Linked DNA regions of Homo sapiens: region 2 is linked to region 1. The links come from fine-mapping of genetic effects on gene expression. A gene starts in region 1. The other region holds a variant in brackets. All regions are shown on one strand. Distances are from middle to middle. Region 1 holds the start of UBE3C (ubiquitin protein ligase E3C). Region 2 overlaps UBE3C (ubiquitin protein ligase E3C).

The links. PIP is the estimated chance that this variant, and not a neighbour inherited with it, causes the effect.
Region 2: its variant is fine-mapped to the expression of UBE3C in whole blood (TOPMed, PIP 0.90).

Annotation. Positions count from the first base shown.
Region 1 is chr7:157,137,824-157,140,562 of GRCh38, reverse strand. It overlaps UBE3C (ubiquitin protein ligase E3C), which reads right to left and starts at 1,637. Exons shown (of 23, transcript NM_014671.3): 1 at 1,225-1,637. The coding sequence starts at 1,290. RefSeq lists silencers at 1,006-1,075, 1,126-1,515, 1,796-2,145.
Region 2 is chr7:157,171,184-157,174,207 of GRCh38, reverse strand. All of the region lies in intron 4 of UBE3C (ubiquitin protein ligase E3C), which reads right to left. Among named protein-coding and RNA genes, the nearest start is that of UBE3C, 34 kb to the right of the region's middle. The variant T/C (reference allele first, on the strand shown) is at 1,408.

The DNA of each region.
Region 1 (2,739 bases):
TCTCTCCTAACTGTAGAAATCCTTTGATCTCATAAAACATTTTCATTAACGTGGAAGACCCTAAGTGCTACCACGACCACCCTTAACTGCACAGTACTTAGTTCTGGAGCACAAGTGACTTCCAAGCAATCACCATCACACGAACCTCAAAGCTGAAAAATTATCAGCACACTTCTCTCCCAACTCTTTACCCAGGTTCCCTTCTAACCTCAGAAACCACCAAACACAGCCCCACAGCACAATCTTAATAACAGCAGTTCCTCCTTGGCCTGCCAGCACCCACTCTGCGTTATGTGCCTACCTGGTGGTTGTGATATACAGAATATACTGATAGACAAGAAAAACTAGGTGAAGCATTTTAAAGAACATTTCAGAAATGATGGGAAGGGGTGGGAAGGGAGGGGCGGGAACAAGACCACACAGTGTTCAACGACTTAGCGGTTCCAGTGAACCAACTGATGCCCGTCTTCAGGGACAGACAGCTAGAAATTCTAGACTAGAACAGAGGCGTCATGGTTTGCCTACCCTTATCCTAAACAATTACCATGCGAACAACTTAATGTCGATCACAACAGATGTAAGTCCGGAGTCTCTCCACAGTTTCCAGGAGGCTGGTGGCAAATAATTGCCCTCGTCTTGGATTCAAACACGTGGCTATTCATGAGACGTTCTGCCTCTACTTTAGAGATTATCGACATCAGCAAATGCGTGCCGTTCACCTTCTACAACCGAAAACGCCCTTCAGGTGGCATTCGAAAAGCAGCCACTCCCTGATGCCATGCGGGAGCGAGCATGGAAAGCGCATTTCTGAAAGGAAACACCCAGAAAGGGTAAGTTCACCTTGGGTGGCACAAAGCGTGCCAGGGTTCACCGGCCTCCTGCATGGAAGGGAGCCACGGCCAGCGCGCCCGGGTCCCGAAGCGCAGTGGACAGGCAAGGCCCCCACGGGCGCGGCCTCGAGTTCCAGCCAGGGAGGCCCCGAGTCCAGTCCTAAGCCCCAGCCAGAGTCCTGGCCCCAAGTCTCGGCTCCGAGTCCAACCCCGAGTCCCGGCCGGAGCGGCCCCGAGATCCGGCGAGGAAGCCCCGAGTCCCCGCCAGGGAGGCCCCGAATCCAGCCCCAAGTCTCGGCCCCGAGTCCAGCCCCGAGTCCAGCCCCGAGTCCCAGCCCCGAGCCCCGGCCGCGCAGGCCCCGAGCCGAGGGCGCCCCGCCAGCCCGGCCCTCACCTTCCTGCTCGCGCCGCCAAGGGACACCTTGGGCCGCGTCTTGAAGTCGCCTTCGAAGCTGAACATCCTGGCAGCCTAGCCCATGTGCGGGCAGCGCCGCCGCGGAAGCAGCCGGGCGGGCGGGGCACGGGGCGGGCTGGGAGGCTCTCGGCGCCCGCCCGCCCGGCCCGGGGCAGCGAGGACGCGGCGGCCGGGAGGCGACCCGAGCCCGCCCCCGGGCTGTACCCTCCCAGCCCTGCCCTGGGGCGGGAGGGGCGGCAATACTGGAGGGGCGGCCCTGCCTCGCCTGCCCCTCATCCACGCCGGCCACAGCTCGGGCCGCTGCAGGGGCGCCCAGCGGGCAGCAAACCCGGCGCTTGCACCTGGAACTGCCGCCTCGGGAGGGAAGATGGCGGTCAGCCGTCAGTGCGTGCGCGGCCCTGCAGACGTGCGCGGCCCTGCAGACGTGCGCGGCCCTGCAGACGTGCGCGGCCCTGCAGACGTGCGCGGCCCTGCAGACGTGCGCGGCCCTGCAGACGTGCGCGGCCCTGCAGACGTGCGCGCCTCCGCCATTGACGGCACGGCGCTCTTCCCGGCGGTTCCGCTAGCGTGCGCGGCCCCGCAAGGCGCGCTGGAGCCTGGGGAGGACGGCGGTGACGCGGGCTGGGCACGCGGCGGAGTGGGCGGGGCCTGGTGCGTGCTGGGGGAGCGCGGCGAGGGGCGCGGGAGGTGTTGGGTGCGGGGCAGGGTGCGGGAAAGGTGGAGTGCGAGGCACGGGCCGGGATGGGGTGCAGGGCAGGGTGCGGGGTGCAGGGTGGGGTGCAGGGGCCGGCACCCGGAGCGGGCTGGGAGCGGCCAATCTGGTGCCAGACTCGAGTGAGGCGGGAAAGGAGCAGCTAGGCCCAGCCCGTCTGTTTACATCCCACCTGTTCTATGTCTATGACACGCACAGACGGACGTAAATATTTACCATGTACACAGACATGCGCAGATTTGCCTCATACATAGCACACATATGCATCTATAGATACAGCATCAATACATATAAATATGTATCATGTACACATACCTGTGTATGCAAAAATATTTGCTCCTGGACTTACCATGGGGCTTTGTCCTGATAAACCCATCGTAAGATGAAAATATTGTAAGTTGAAAATGTATTTAATGCTACAATAAACCCATCACAAAGTCAAAAAATTGTAAGTTGAGCCATTTTAAGTTGGGGACCACCTATACATAAACATGTGTCTTATATCCACACATACGTATACATAATATCTCATATACATGTGCATATACATATATATCATACACGATTGAAACCAATTTCTAAAAATTGATTTTTGGTTGTATACAAGGTGTGCAACATGATGATTTCATAGAGACATTGTGAAATGACTACCCTCTTTGTGTGTGTGTGGTAAGAGTACATAAAATCTACTCTCTTAGCAAAATTTCAACACACAATACGATATCATCTACAGTCGTCCTGCGGCCGAGCACGGTCGCTCACGCCGGTAATCCCAGCACTCT
Region 2 (3,024 bases), 34 kb before region 1:
ATATTTTTAGTAGGGGCGGGGTTTGCCATGTTGGCCAGGCTGGTCTCGAACTCCTGGCCTCGAGTGATCCACCAACCTCAGCCTCCCAAAGCGCTGGGATTATACACGTGAGCCACCACCCTCGGCAAAGATAGCCTCTTAAGTGTAGCTAGTCATAAATACGCCACATAGCCTTGTCTTTGCCTATATTTTTAAGTAGTTTCTTCGACATTAACATTTCTTTGCCATAAAACGTTATTAAACAATGAAATTACCAACACAAAAGCACTCTGCATAATAAATTAGCGCATGTCTTAAACTGGGATGAAATAATTCTGAACTACTCCGAATATTAGTTAATTTGCCTACACACAGGCTTTCTCTTGAGGTGTTTGGAGCCACCTTGCCCACATTTTCTCAGGAATGAATAAGGTATGAATACTCCCTTCACCATCTGACATGTAGTTCGTCCTAAAATTTCTATTATCAGTTAACAAATAAGATGTAAAATAACTATACATTATATAATAGGACTGTTGGAAGAAGACTTTATCAAAAGATTCAAAGAAAATTAAGCAACTAAAAAGTGAGGCAATTAATTCCAGAATTAAACTATACATAAAATATAATCTTAGTACCATATTTGACTTAAAGTCGTAAGAAAAATTTTTTAAAAAGGAGGTGAGGAAGAAATAGCCATATATGTTGATTTTTGCATAGAATAACTTTGAAAACCCATCAAAAGTGGCATTATGCTTACTCCTAGAGTAGAAGGCAAACAATGTGAAGACTGGGGCAGGAGACATTTTCCCCTACGTTAAGATTAATTTATTGCTATCGCATCTATGCTTGAGAACTGAATCAACATTCAACCGCCCAGGCTGGAGTGCAGTCGCAGGATCATAGCTCACTGCAGCCTTGAATACCTGGGCTCAAACGATCCTCCTGCCTCAGCCTCCTAAGTAGCTGGACTACAGCAGCAAGCTACCGCAGCCAGCTAATTTATTTTTTGCTTTGTTTTACAGGTGGGGTCTGGTATTTTGGCCAGGCTGGTCTCAAACTCCTGGCCTGAAGGGATCCTCCCACCTCAGCCCCACAAAGTGTTGGTATTACAGGCCTGAGCCACTGTGTCCAGCCCACTTTTCTTTTATCCTTTTCCTGGACTGGTCTTATGACATTTAATTCTATTTCAGGTTTCAGAATCTGCACATGAGCAATTTGCTTGATATTTGCTCGAGGCCGAAAGTCAAATATGTTCATTTACCTCCAAGCTTTTCACAGATGGCTTCTGAAGCAAGACTGTGTAGCTACACCATGTCGTGACTGATGACTAAGATTGAGGACCTCACTCAAAGGCAATAGGTGCTCTGGAGAGACACCAATCGACATCTCACAGCACCTGCCTGTCTGTGCTCCTTGGTGATCTTG[T/C]AATCTACAAGATTAGAGTATGTGAGGCCAGGACATCCTGTTCCAGAAAGCAAGCCCGATTATCTGCCGTTGTACTATTCTGATTCTTTTTTTCAACAACTTCAGAAAGCAAGCCTGGAAAGAGCCTGCACTTAACTGAAGTCCAGAATGGGTAGATTCAACGGCTTTCACTGCCTCTCTAGACTGGCTCTCAGTTCCTTCTCTGCACGTTCTCGGTTTACAGAAAGTCTTCACCATGTTCCACCTTAGCTCAACTCTGGAGGCAATGCTGGGTTTTAAAGCCAAACACTAGAGGAATAATCATGTATTCCTTTGTCCGCTGTAATTAATTCAAGTAGGATCATTCTAGTAGGGATGGTTTGTAGCGAGGAAGACTTATTTTTCACTGTATACTCCCCTTTCATGCAATTTGAAATTTTTAACACAGATAAACAAAAATTTCCAAAAATAAATTATATATTTAACCTGGCTGGGTGTGGTGGTTCATGTCTGTAATCCCAGCACTTTGGGATGTCAAAGCAAGTGGATCACTTGATGTCAGGAGTACAGACCAGCCTGGCCAACATGGTGAAACCTGACTCTACTAAAAATACAAAAAAATTTAAGCTAGGGGTGGTGGCATAAGCTTGTAACCCCAGTTACTCAGGGCGCTCAGGTAGGAGAATCGCTTGAACCCAGGAGGCGAGGTTGCGGTGAGCTGAGATCGCACCACTACACTCCAGCCTGGGCGACAGAGTGAGCAAGACTCCGTCTCAAAAAGGAAAAAAAAAAAAGATAAATAGCATATTTAACCTAGGCCAGGTGCAGTGCTCATGCCTGTAATCCCAGCACTATGGGTGGCCGAGGCAGGTGGATCACCTGAGGCCAGGAGTTCGAGACCAGCCTGCCCAACATGGCGACATCCCATCTCCACTAAAAATACAAAAATTAGCTGGGCGTGGTGGTACACGTCTGTAATCCCAGCTACTTGGGATGCTGAGGCAGGAGAATCGCTTGAACCCGTGAGGCGGAGGTTACAGTGAGCCGAGATGATGCCACTGCATTCCAGCCTGGGTGACAGAGCAAGACTCTGTCTCAAAAAAAAAAAAAAAAAAAAAAAAAAAAAAAAAAAAAATATATATATATATATATATATATATAAAATATTTAAAAATGTATATAACCCAACAATTATATACAAATCTCTTAATATTCCTTGAGAAAATGGACAGTAACAAATTCCATTTTTTAAAAAAATTATTCTTCTATGCATCTGGTTGTATTTTCCACCATTAATACACACTGTTCCTCAGCACTGATAAGATCAACAGCCTACAAAATTTTAGAGAACTACGATTACATTTGGGATTTTTTTTAAAAACATGAGACCCTAAGGCTGGGCATGGTGGCTTATGCTTATAATTCTACCACTTTGGGAGGATGAGGTGGGAGGATCACTTGAGGCCAGGAGTTGGAGGCTAGCCTGGCCAACATGGTGAAACCCTGTCTCTACTAAAAATACAAAAATTAGCCAGGCATGTTGGTAACACGCCTGTAATTCCAGCTACTTAGGTGGCTGAGACACCACCGATTGCTTGAGCCCGGGAGGGGAAGGTTGCAGTGAGCCAAGAATGCACC